Homo sapiens: one gene and its partner. The protein of the gene in region 1 purifies or fractionates together with the protein of each later gene. This does not show direct contact. Each region holds a gene or a part of one and is shown on either strand. Other genes may lie near its edges.

The links. The genes of interacting proteins can lie anywhere in the genome.
Region 2: the proteins of MED12L (region 1) and CDK19 purify together in Homo sapiens (affinity purification with mass spectrometry; 5 studies listed by BioGRID and IntAct, with this or other methods). This does not show direct contact.

Annotation. Positions count from the first base shown.
Region 1 is NC_000003.12:151,375,658-151,382,696, forward strand, and holds part of MED12L (mediator of RNA polymerase II transcription subunit 12-like protein), read left to right. Parts: intron 1-368; coding exon 369-557; intron 558-1,142; coding exon 1,143-1,217; intron 1,218-1,333; coding exon 1,334-1,521; intron 1,522-2,354; coding exon 2,355-2,516; intron 2,517-4,455; coding exon 4,456-4,567; intron 4,568-6,998; coding exon 6,999-7,039. UniProt on the Homo sapiens protein: May be a component of the Mediator complex, a coactivator involved in the regulated transcription of nearly all RNA polymerase II-dependent genes.
Region 2 is NC_000006.12:110,805,447-110,812,485, reverse strand, and holds part of CDK19 (cyclin-dependent kinase 19), read left to right. Parts: intron 1-7,039.

The sequences.
Region 1 (7,039 bases):
ATAAAAATTATGAAGAACGTATATCTGATAGAATCATTATATAGCAAGTTAGAAAAAACTGACACAAAATAGTGCCTAGAGCAAGACCTTACTTTCCAGTTAAAAACATACTAATATTCTCTTTATTGTCTTTTCTTTTTTCCCATTAAAAAATGTTTTTAAGCAAGTTCTACTTTGTATTTTTTAGAAGCCAAAATGCTAAAAATTTTGTTTTTTAAAATTTTTCTACCTACTTTTTAATGTAATTTTTTAAATTGGAAAATTCCTATCAGTTTTCTATTCAATTATGCACTGTGGATTTAGTACATATTGCATATATATATACCGAAAGCCAGTGCCTGTCAATCTAATTGCCATATTATTTTTAGGAATGGGTAGGAGAGCATTGCTTAAAAGAACCTGAAAGATTATGTACAGACAAAGAACTTATATTGGACCCTGTGCTTTCAAATATGCAAGCACAGAAATTACTGCAGCTTATCTGTTATCCTCATGGCATTAAAGAATGTACCGAGGGGGACAATCTGCAAAGACAGCACATTAAGCGTATTCTTCAGGTCAGTCGTATACAGATTGTGTTTCTGTCATTTGATAAATTCTTCGTAATAATAAAAAGAGTTACTTCCTCTCTTTTTTTGTCCTTGCTAATTTGTGATTTCAATTCTGATTTTTATTCCCACACATTTTCTGTGGAATTGACATACTTTATTTTTGGGTGGATGTACATGCTGCAAATTGTATATGATCATCAAACAAATATTGATATTTTAAATCAGTATTGTATTTACATGAGAAATATGCTTCAGAGAGGGGCTATGTTAAATATATTATTAAAGAAATATTGAAATCATTTTGGATTGGGATTGGTTAAATAGATTTTGAAAGGAGAAATGCTTATTTAGTTTCAGTGCATAGCTGAGTCAGGCACAGTATTAACTAATTAATAATTAATGTTTCTGTTTATTGGTTTGTATCGCTACTGAATATATATGCAGCAAGATTGGGAACCTTTTGACTCATATAAATTATTTCATTGTGTATGATTATTCTGCTCTTTCTTGAGAGAAGGAGTACTGTAAGAAATTACTGTATTTTAACACATTTGATACCCATAATGTTTTAATTCTTTCCATTTTTCCCAGAATCTTGAGCAGTGGACACTGAGGCAATCCTGGTTAGAACTCCAGCTAATGATCAAACAGTGCTTGAAGGACCCTGTGAGTTTATATTGAAAGCTTATCTCTGTATGAAATTTTATAAAAAGCAAAAACACGTTGATGTTTGAGGATAAAGGAATACACATATGTGCCAGTATTCTTATATCTAACTCTAGGGCTCTGGTTCTGTGGCCGAAATGAACAACTTACTGGACAATATTGCAAAGGCAACAATAGAGGTATTCCAGCAGTCTGCAGACCTAAATAATTCTTCTAATTCTGGCATGAGCCTCTTCAACCCAAACAGTATTGGAAGTGCTGATACAAGTAGCACGAGACAGAATGGAATAAAGACATTCCTAAGGTATTTTTGTCTGTTGTTTTATTGAACTGTCATGAATTTTTCACAAGTAACGGTAAATTTTGTGTAGCACAGTGATTTTTCTTTAAGTCATAGGAATGTGAAGAACATAGTTACTTGTAAGCAGGGATTATTATTAATAAGTTAATGAGTAAAGCTGGGGTGAATGATAGCTTCGGAATATTTGATTGAGTAGGCTTAAACACCTTGAAACTGCAGGTGAACTCAGGTTTGGTTCATGCTTTCAGTGTCCCTTAGTCTACTGTGTTACGTAGTATTCATTATATGGGAAACGCTTTTTCCACCATTTTTATTAATTAATTATTTTGCACAAATATATCCTGGTAATTTTTGTGCAGAATTAGAACCAGTAGGCATATAAAGTCTTAAAGTAATTATTTAATCATGAAAGGCTGATTTGTATTTCATCATTTTGGTATAAAGTATAACTAGCGAATTTTAAACCTTAAAAATTAGCTATTAGTATGCTTACATATAATATTTCATATTGTAACTGTGACAGAAAAGTATATTGTTTGTTGGACAAAGTGATTGTTTTTAATTAGAGAGAGGGGGTCATCGGAAAACATTAAAGTCAGTTTAGTTACAATATCCTTCCAGAACTGCATGTTTTATTGCTTTCTGTAGGCTTAGGTGGAAAGCTCATGCAAATGTCTAGTGTTCGGAAAAAGGAAAGATAATACAGAAATAAAAGGGAAATTTTAGAACAGTCTGTGTGTCTCATACATCAAAGTTTCGCTTTGGAGTTTCTGTTATAACTGTGAGAGCAGGGGAAAGGATGCTTTCTCCGGTGTAACACCTGTTTCTGATTTTAGTTCCTCCGAACGCAGGGGTGTATGGTTGGTGGCCCCCCTCATCGCCAGGTTGCCAACTTCTGTGCAAGGAAGAGTGCTGAAAGCCGCTGGGGAAGAGCTGGAGAAGGGACAGCACTTGGGTTCTTCTTCCAAAAAGGAAAGGGACAGACAGAAACAGAAAAGGTGTGGCTGGAAGATGGGCGTCTGTGTGAGAGTTTAAAGAATAATTGAGAAAGTCTCACTTCCTGTAAACCTGTGTGGTCACTGTACCCACAGTCCACTGAAATTTAGTTTTTAAATGGAACTGGGAATATTCTATTAGGCAAGGCTGTCTTATTCCTAAAAAATTTCAGGTTATAATCCTTAATACATTAGTTCTCAATTCTGCCTTTATATCCAAATCACTGCTGAACTGTTAAAAACAGTGATTTCCGAGACCCGCTTTAGACCAACTGAATCAGATCTGGATAGCTACCTGATCCCTGTATTTTATTTTTAATTATTTCTATTTTTTTATTATTTAGATATTTATGTTTAAAATAAATATAATGTATAATTCTGGCATGTTGGTGTCTGAACTAGTTGCTCATATTTTTAACATTTAGGGCTCCTGTTCTAGACTAGACATTAAGACTCCTCGGCCACCACAACTAATGTTTTCTTAATTTATTTTATGCCCAAGAAAAGGTTTCAAGTAATTATATTTGAAAACCGTGTTACTGAGAAAGAAAGAAACCTCACCCTAATGTGAAAATGCCAAGAAACCTAGGAGTAAAGGAAAAAAATTGATAATTTCTTCCATTAAAAAAATATTTTAAGCACATAGATTTCTTGTCCACTAATGAATAATACTATAGTAGCCACCATTTATTGACTGCTTACAGAATGGCAACTCCTCTCTAAAACTCATTATGTACATGAGCTTTTAAAATTCTTATAGCAATCATGTGGTAGGTACTCTCATTATCTTCTTTATATCATGTTGAAACAGACACTTAAAGGTTACATGAGTTGCTCCAGGACACACAGTGAAGGACATAAAGCCTGGGTTTAAATCCAGGAGGTCTGGCTTCTGAGCTTGTGCTCTTAACTACAGTACATTTTGGTAGAGACCCAGCATTGTATGTACTGTATTTGTTTTACATCTGGTTGTTTTACCATGTTGGCCAGGATTAATTAACCAACAAGGAAGCATAATTCTAATTTTCAAATCATATTTGCTGATAGGTGAGTGTATGTGCATTGCCTAACTTCCCATAGGCAGGACAGATGGTATTGAAGAGACTTGAAAGATCGCTCTTCCCACATCAGGGGCTCTTTATTCTGCCCATGGAGAATAATGCTGATTGAAATATTTTGGCCTAGGTCTCATTTTAAGAAATTTGTCTTTCCAACATGGCGCTTTGTTTGTCAATATGATTTGTTGATTATTCTCTAATTGAAGACATTTTGTTAAAATGCCAATTTAAAACAGAATTTTTAACCAAATGCCTTGACACCTCTTTACCAGTGGATGCTGCGGGCTATGTTGGAGCCTGTGGGCTGTGTTGGAGCTGCACACTAGGGGTCGCCAGCAAGTACACTGTTTTTGGAGTCCTCAGCCCTGGCTGATGAATTAGCTCTACTAACACCCTGCTTTTTGGTCTTGGGAAATGTGCTGAAAAACAAAATCAAACCCCAAAACAAGCTCAACAGACATATATATAGGCCTGTTTTCCCAGACTCTAAAACAAGAGTTTTATATGAGAACTTTAAAAATTTTTAATTTTATCCTGTGTATAAATTGATATTCTTTCTGATGTACATTTTTAAATTCTGCATATTGATGTAGAAGATGAATTCACTGTCTTCTACCCTCACTGCCCGGCATGCTCACATGCAGTATGGTTTGATGCTAGTTTGAGAATGGCTTCGAGGGCAATTAGAGCATACGAAGTGATTTAGAAGCATTACAGTGGCTTTTAATTTTATAAGTAGAGGTATGATTTAAATTTTCAAGCAGTCTTTGGCTATTTACCACCTCTCTTATTTATCTAATAGTGAGGCAAAGAAATGAATGTTGCCAGAGGAAGTAATGCATTATTTCTAACTAGATCTGTTGTTATTATTACTTCCTTTGTAGTATGTCTCTTTTGAGTCAACAACCCTTCCTCTCACTGGTACTTACCTGCCTTAAGGGACAAGATGAACAAAGGGAAGGCCTCCTAACATCTCTCCAGAATCAAGTTAACCAGGTAAAGTATAGTATAATATTAAGACAGGCAAATATCTTTCTAACGGCATTCATTTATTTGCCTTTCAAATACTGAGATTAAATTAATAAGGGCCAGGTGTGGTGGCTCATGCCTGTAATCCCAGCACTTTGGGAGGCGGAGGCTGGTGGATCACCTGAGGCCAGGAGTTCGAGACCAGCCTGGCCAACATGGTGAAACCCCGTCTGTACTAAAAATACAAAAATTAGCCGGGCATGATGGTGTGCGCCTATGATCCCAGCTACTCGGGAGGCCAAGGCAGGAGAATTGCTTGAACCTGGGAGGCAGAGGCTGCAGTGAGCTGAGATCGCGCCATTGCACACCAGCCTGGGAAACAATAGTGAAACTCTGTCTCAAAAAAAAAAAAAAAAAACAACTAGTAAGGTTACAAAATGTTTTGAGTAGACGCTGAGAAACAATCCATGCCTTATTCTTCTACCTGGCATTGTAGACACCACAAGATTAACAACTTTATATTAATGAGATATATACAATAAATGTGTACTGCCTATAAAAGTAAAATTTTATATATTGCATATAACTTTGAACTATCTGCCCGTCTCCTAACTCTGCCTCATAGGAGAGGACCTGGAGCAATCTATGCTGCAGTAGGCATGGCAGTGAGTCCAGCTCCTCAAGCTTGGATGCCACATTATCAGGCACGCTTTCAGCTTGAAATCTGTAGGTTCAGAAACTCAGTTGTATTGATGCCAACCAAGTACACAAGAAATAAATCAGAAGGCATGTTGGTTTATTTAGAAATAATTTGGACATTGCCTTTTCACCAAACACAGTTCTCCTGGTCACTGTTTGAGGCTCTTGCATCTATGTACTATAAGGAAACTGAGCATTCACAACAGAAATTGGAGAGCATGGAATTAAGCAAAGTGGATAGATTGGTCTTATGAGGTGTTTTATCCTGATACACAGCCTAATTGACCCCTTCTTGTGGCACTGTGTTTCTATGACACCATGTCTTTCCCTCGAATGGTACTAGATGGACATGGACAAGGACACTTAATCTTATTTGATCCTCTTGTCATTTCTCACCTTTTGGGTAGGAGAGATCTAGATATAGCAATCATAGTGAACCTTTTTAAATGGAAGTCACATATTACCTCAGTATACCTAGTATAAAAAATTCGGGCTGATAAGGCCAGACATGATTTGACACTGGCTCTCTCTCCTACCTTGTCTCCTACCAGTCATGGCCCTCTTTCCTCCATGGTTGTTGCACTGGCCATGTTACTGTTCTTGAACTTGCTGAGCAAATTCTCATTTCAGTGCCTGTGCATCTTTTCTTCCCTTTAGGTGGAAAGATTCCCTTCCAGAGATTAGCATGGCCTGCTCCCTTCATTCAGTTCTCTGTTAAGATGTTACCTCCTTCGGGAGGCCTTTGATCACCTCTAAAAATAGGACCACAGCCATTCTGTATGCCATTGCCATGCCTCAAACCACTTGTTACACTTAGTTTTATTTGTCCCACTACTATTATTTGAGCTCCATGAGAGCTTGTTGTTTAGTTAACTACCTTGCCCCCTTAAGCCAGCCTTAGGGAGGGGTTCATTTCTTCTGATGAGATTTGGGAAGTGCTTTCCTCTCACCTTGCAGGGTACTTACAGGTCATCTGTTGGGATGGAGTACTTCTGCATGTGACTCATTTGAACTCTTTTAAGATGACTCTCATTAATGACCATATTTCAGAGCATGATAGGGTTTTTGTTAGTGGTTTTTTGTTTTTGTTTTGAATTGCACTTTTTTTTTGCTCATCTCATCTGATTTTAGGGTGTTGCCCACTTGTGGCTCCCTTTCCTAAGCAAATTTTTCCTTTTCCAGCATTAGTGTGAGTCAGTGAGGAAGTGAAGAAGCAGCCCACTTTATAAACTGATAAAGCCACTTGGCTGATGTCTGCAATGCCATATTTTTCAAAGTACCGTGCGTTCTCTTTATCAAGGAAGACACATACATAAGATAGCAGACCTTCTCTTCTATAAAACATCAAAATAATACATTTGCTAGGGTTCAGCAAGTCCCTAGAAATATAACAGGACTGAGGCAAAATGTAATTCTCTCTCTCCAGTGTTTTTCTTCGTAAGATCAATGAGGTAATGTATTTTAAAAGTTTTTATTAATGCTTAATTTGATGGCCCTCTCAAGCATTTTCCCAGACTTAATCATAGGCTAGCTATATAATTATATAAGATTTTCTTCCTCCACCTAGAACGGCAAATGCACAAATAAATAGCCAGATTTCTTTCTGCATGGAGGAAGAAGAAAGCTAAAATTTTATTTAGCTTTGTTTGTTAATTTGTTAAAGATAAGAAGTGGTTTTTTGCTATCAGTATAAAGCTCAATTTATCTTTAAATGAGAGAAAAATTAAACTTTAATGGGGAGTTTTTTTCCGGATCTTAGATTTTAAGTAACTGGAGAGAAGAACGATACCAAGATGACAT
Region 2 (7,039 bases), on another chromosome or scaffold:
ATAAGAGGCTGGAAATGCAAGATTTACATCTGAGTTTTTCACCTTTAATTAAAAATATTCTCTGGGTCGGGTGCGGTGGCTCACGCCTGTAATCCCAGCACTTTGGGAGGCCGAGGCGGGTGGATCACGAGGTCAGGAGATCGAGACCATCCTGGTGAACATGGTGAAACCCCGTCTCTATTAAAAATACAAAAGGAATTAGCCGGGCATGGTGGCGGGTACTTGTAGTCCCAGCTGCTCGGGAGGCTGAGGCAGGACAATGGCGTGAACCCGGGAGGTGGAGCTTGCAGTGAGCCGAGATCCCGCCACTGCACTCCAGCCAGGGCGACAGAGCGAGACTCTGTCTCAAAAAAAAAAAAAAGTTATTTGTTCACCTTTTTGTTTTGCAGGAAGAGAGGCTTTTGACCCAACTCTCCTTTTTATTTAATATTTATACTTTTGAATATTTTTTGTAGAGACCGGGTCTTGCTGTGTTGCCAGAGCTAGTCTTGAACTCCTGGGCTCAAGTGATCTTCCTGTCTCAGCCTCCCAAAATGCTGGGATTACAAGTGTGAGCCATCATGCTGGACCTCCAACTCTCTTTTACTTTAAAAAAAAAAAAAAATCCGGTTTAAAAGTTGTTCTTTTTTTGTTTTTTCGTTTTACAGACAGGGTCTTGCTGTGTTGTTCAGGTTGGTCTTGAACTCCTGGCTTCCCAAAGTGCTGGCATTACAGGCTCATGCCACCACACCCAGCCAAATGTTACTCTTGAAGAGAAACAAGTTCAGAATATTTCTGAACTTTTTAATACAAGCAAGAATTCATAAAATAAATTTTCTTCATTATTAAGAAGTCGCACATGACAATTTATGGTTACAAATTTCAAGACTGCATTTTTCCAGTTAGAAACATTTAAAAATTTGATCGATAAAGGAATATTGTTAAAAAGTTCTTTTGTTGGCCGGGCGCCGTGGCTCACACCTTTAATCCCAGCACTTTGGGAAGCCGAGGCAGGTGGATCACCTGAGACCAGGAGACCAGCCTGGCCAACAAGACGAAACCCCGTCTCTTCTAAAAATACAAAAATTAGCCGAGCGTGGTGCCTTGCATGGCTGACACAGCTTACAGAGTTTGTTTTGTCAGGGTTTCAAATGAGTGGTTGATGACTACATAACTTAATGTATGTCATGAAATTCTTCACAATGAGTACATGTAGATGCATATAGCTAATAGGTACAATAGTATTTGCCTGTGTTTGATGGGTTTTTCACAATCGGTTTGTAGTTAGATTATTGTATTTGCATTTTTGTTGGACACTTACAGAAGATTAAAGATTTGTCAGTATCATCAGAGGATTAGAACTTTCCAAAGTTTTAGATCATCTAGTTCAATTTCCTCTTTTTACAAATGAGAAACCTAGAGCTTTGAGAGGTTAACTGTCATGCTCATAGTGTCACAGCAGAGATAGCCTGTAATCCACATCTAACTCAAGAGTTCTTGCATTTTCCTTCCTAATACCATGGGAGGAAAAACAAAAAAAGGCCATCTTACCTCCAGTCTTGATAACTTACTGTATAAACCTTTTTGCATGCCAAAAGTGCATTTATACCAAAAAAAAATATGGAAAAGGGAAATTATCACATATACAGGACATTTACAAAGTGGGAGTGCAGGACTGTAGATTCTACTACATGTAGCTGCTGCTTTTCTTTTTTCTTTTCTTTTTTTTTTTTGAGATGGAGTTTGCTCTTGTTGCCCAGGCTGGAGTGCAATTGTGCGATCTCAGCTCACTGCAACCTCCGCCTCTTGGGTTCCAGCGATTGTCCTGCCTCAGCCTCCTGAGTAGCTGGGATTACAGGCATGCACCACCACGCCTGGCTGATTTTGTATTTTTAATAGAGATGGGGTTTCTCCATGTTGGTTAGGCTGGTCTCGAACTCCCAACCTCAGGTGATCCACCTGCCTCGGCCTCCCAAAGTGCTGGGATTATAGGCGTGAGCCACCTTACCTGGCCATGCTGCTGCTTTTCATCTGTTTTTTTCTTCATCCTCACTGTCAACACTTTTGGCCATTATTTCTGATTTGGATAGTAGCTGGTTGGTCTCTCACTATAGTCCAAGATCCAAATTGCTGCTAGTGTCATTTTCCTATAAAATCAATCATGTCATATCTCTTTTTGGAAAGCTATACGTTTGCTATGGCTTATACTATCAGATCCAATCTCATCTCTTTCTCTTCTCTCCTTGCATGATTCATACTTGAGACTTAGATCCAATTTTAATTCCTTAGTTTGTCATGTAAAGACATTTACATTCAGACCCTGAAGTCTGTAGTCTTTATACCTGCCACCATTTCTTTTTTCCAGTTGCATTTAAGCTATATACTTCTGTAGCATTGAACTCGTATTTTCTGGTACTTAAGTCCTTTCATGTCTCATTTTCTTTGTTCTACATTCACTTTAGAATGGTGTTGCTGTGCCATTCTTCCCTCCCCCTTTTCCCTTATCCTTACAAACCTGTAAAACTCATACTTCAATACCCAACTCAAATAGCTTTCCTCCTTGAAGCCTTCTCTTAATCACTCGGTGTACTCCTCAGCTGTGTTTCTACCCCTTTGTTCTTACATATGTAAAGTCACTGTAAGTGATACTAATATGCCTCATAAATTACTAGCTGCAAAAGGATCATCATTCTGTCCAGTGCCTTGTACAGAGTTGGTCACATAATACACAAAATTATATTCAATTAAAAATGCCTTTAATTGGTAAAGATGCTCCACTGATTTTAAAAGCAGACCAAATTCCTTTAAAAACGCAAGTTTATTTACTTTTCTTAAAAAACGAAGTTTTTAGTAATTGCTTTGAAAGCCTGAAATACAGTAATGTTATATGAAATAGGTGGTTAGATGTAAATACTTCTAATGTATTTTTTCTAAGAAATGTACTGCTTTTCCAAACAGTTGATAAATTTCTTTTTTCATTTTTTTCACTTGAGACTGTCTCACTCTATCACCAAGGCTGGAGTGCTGTCGTGCAGTCGTAGCTGACTGTAGCCTTGAACTCCTGGGCTCAAGTGATCCTCCTGCCTCAGGCTCTTGCGTAGCTAGGACCACAGATGCACGTGCTGGCTAATTTTTGTTGTTGTTTTGTAGAGACGAGGTCTCACTGTGTTCACTGTGTTGCCCAGGCTGGTCTCGAACTCCTGGGCTCCAGTGATCCTTCTGCTTCAGCCTCCCAAAGTGCTGGGATTACAGACATGAGTCACTGTGCCTGGCCCATTTCTTTTTTTTTTTTTTGAGATGGAGTCTCGCTGTCTCCCAGGCTGGAGTGCAGTGGCGCAGTCTCGGCTCACTGCAAGCTGCGCCTCCTGGGTTCATGCCATTCTCCTGCCTCAGCCTCCCGAGTAGCTGGGACTACAGGCGCCCACCACCATGCCCGGCTAATTTTTTTTTTTTTTTGTATTTTTAGTAGAGATGGGGTTTCCCCGTGTTAGCCAGGATGGTCTAAATCTCCTGACCTCATGATCCACTTGCCTCGGCCTCCCAAAGTGCCGGGATTACAAGTGTGAGCCACCACGCCTGGCCCCATTTCTTTGAACAGATATTAGATATTGCTAAGGAAAATAGGCATATTTTTGAGAAATAAATATTTTCTCTTAGGCCAGCTCTTTTAGAATTGCTAGACTAGTAATCTGTCTTCTGTGCTTTTACTAGCTATTTTATAGAGATGCTTAGAAAATACCAGTATTTAAATACATTTTAGGACAAATTTTGGTTTTATGGGTTTATGGTAAAAAATTAAGTATCTTTAACACTTAGTAAATGAAGTAGACATCTGTTTATGTTTAACTGGTTTGTCATTTTTGTAATGCAAGCCTTCAAAAACTTTTTGAGGCCTAAGGGAAATTAATGTGTTCTTTTTCAATGAAATTTGATAATCTAGAGCAGTGATCAGCAAACTTTTTCTGGCAGATACTAAATATTTTAGGCCTTTTGGGCTTTACTGTCTCTGGTGCAATTACTCAACTCTATTGTAGTGCCAAAGCATCGACAGATAATACGTAAACCAGTATGGATAAGGATGGCTGTGTTCCAGTAGACCTTTATTTATACAAATAAGCAGTTGGCTGAATTTAGTCTGCAGGCTATAGTTTGTTGACTCCTGGTGTAGAGCAGTGATGTCCAATAGAACTTTCTGCAGTGATCTGAAAATGTTTAGCATCTGTGCTGTCCAATATGCTAGCCACAAGCCACACGCCACACATAGGTATCGATTACTGGAATGTAGTTAGTGTGATTAGAAACTAATTAGTAGCTATCACATTGGACTGTGTAGGTTTAGAGTCTTTGGATGAGTGGCTTAGCAACAAATAATTCTCTGATCCATCAAGTGACCTTTCAATAAAAATGTTTAAATCAGGGTGTGGATAAATAGGAAAACTGTTATGTCTTTTTTCAAGTTACAGGAGAAATATTAAGGCTGAAATAGCTTGATAAAGCAAACCAATACTTGAAGAACTATCAATTTATGAATGGAATCAAGGATATTTAACTACTTTTTCAAAAAAGTATTTTATGGCCGGATGAGGTGGGAGGATTGCTTGAGCCCAGGAGTTTGAGGCTATAGTGAGCTATGATGATGCCATTGCACTTCAGCATGGGCAGCAGAACGAGACTCTCTTAAAAAAAAAAAAAGGTATTATAAAAAAAAGTTTGTAAATAGTATATGTGCGTAAAAATATACAATGTGGCTGGGCGCGGTGGCTTATGCCTATAATCCCAGCTCTTTGGGGAGGCCGAGGTGGGCAGATCACTTGAGGCAAGGAGATCAAGGCCAGCCTTGCCAACAGCGAAAACTCCGTCTCTACTAAAAATACAAAAAATTAGCCGGGCGTGGTAGTACACACCTGTAATCCCAGCTACTCGGGAGGCTAAGGCACAATAATTGCTTGAACCTGGGAGGTGGAAGCTGCAGTGAGCTAATATTGCACCACTGCACTCCAGCCTGGGTGACAGAGTGAGACTCTGTTTCAATAAAACAAAAATAACAAAAAACCACCAGTGTAACGTAAGTCATCCCTTTCCCAGCCATTCTTTCCCTTTTTTAGGGGCAGTCATTCTTGGTTGTCCTTTAAGAGGATTTTCTTTTGGGGTATGTGCATGTGTGTTAACTTAAAGATGTCATTAAATATGACATGCTAGTGTGCTGCACACTTTTCTATTTTTAGATCATGGCTCACTGCAGCTTTGGCTGCCTGGGCTCAAGCAAGTCTGTCTCTTGGGCTCAAGCGATTGTTTCACCTCAGCCTCCTGAGTAACTGGGACTACAGATGTGGGCCATGCCCAGCTTTTTTTTTTTTTTTTAAATTATTTGTAGAGATGAGGTCTTGCTATGTCTCTCAGTCTGGTCTTGAACTCCTGGCCTCAAGTAATCCTCCTACCTTGACCTCCCAAAGTGCTGGGGTTACAGGCATAAGCCATCATGCTTGGCCCTATTTTTATTTTTATTTTTATTTATTTAATTTATTTATTGAGACGGAGTCTTTCTCTGTCACCCAGGCTGGAGTGCAGTGGGAAGATCTTGGCTCACTGCAACCACCACCTCCCAGGTTCAAGCAATTTTCCTGCCTCAGCCTCCTGAGTAGCGGGGACCACAGGCATATACCACTATACCTGGCTAATTTTTTGTATTTTTAGTAGAGACAGTGTTCACCATGTTGGCCAGGCTGGTCTCGAACTCCTGACCTCAAGTGATCCATCTGCCTCAGCCTCCCAAAGTGCTGGGATTACAGGCGTGAGCCACAGTGCTTGGCCCATATTTTAAATCTTAAACATTGCTTAAACATTATGACATATCTATATACAGAGATGCCTTGTTTCTCTTAATAGTTTTGTTGTATCTCATTGTATTGACTTACATCATTGGCTGTCTCCAGTCTTGCTAGTACTAACACTGAAGTGAATATCCTAGTAAGCACAGCATTTTGTACCTATTAATGTGTCTGTAAGTTAAAGTCCTAGAAGCTGTTTACCTTTGGAAGTAATGGCTTGGAATGGTTTACTAATATGGTGATGTATAAGATAGAAATATCTGAAGACTGGAGATGGGGGGGTTGGCTAAGAATAAGGAAGTGAAATGTTAAGACAATAATAATTTTTTTTTTTTTTTGAGATGGAGTTTCGCTCTTCTTGCCCAGGCTGTTGTGTGATGGCACGATCTTGGCTCACCGCAACCTCTGCCTCCCGGGTTTAAGCGATTCTCCTGCCTCAGCCTCCCAAGTAGCTGGGATTACAGGAATGCGCCACCATGCCTAGCTAATTTTGTATTTTTTAGTAGAAACGGGGTTTCATCATGTTGGCCGGGCTGGTCTCAAACTCTTGACCTCAGGTGATCTGCCCACCTCGGCCTCCCAAAGTGCTGGGATTACAAGCGTCAGCCACTGCACCCAGCTGACAGTGATAATTAACACATAAAAATGAGCTATAAATCATTTGTTAAAGGAAGTACAAGTTACTTACTTTTTTTTTTTTTTTTTGAGAAGTGTTATCCAGGCTGGGGTGCAGTGGCACGATCTTGGCTCACTGTACCTCTGCCTCCTGGGCTTAAGCTACTTTCTCATGGCTACTGTTTTAGGAGCATGGAAAAGGCATGTCTCTGAGTTTTACATAGGAAGAGTAGATCCATGGAAAGGTTTTTAATGCAATCTATGTCAGTGTTGATGAATTAAGTATTTTTATTTTTTAAAGTATATAAAATATAGTGTCCTACATTTTTGAACTTAATATGCTAGACAAATAAGTTCATATGTGGTGTTATAAATTGTGTACAGTTGACTGTTGAACAGCAGGAGTTTGAACTGTGTGGGTCCACTTACACGCAGATTTGTGAAACCTGCGTATATGAGGGCCAACTTTTTGTATAGGTGGGTTCTCCAGGGCCAACTGCAGGACCTGAGTATATGTGGGTTTTGGTATATGCAGGGGTCCCAGAACCAACCCTTTAGGTATACTGAGGGACATCTATTTGTTTTGAAAAATTATTCTATAGTGCAGGGTTAGATGA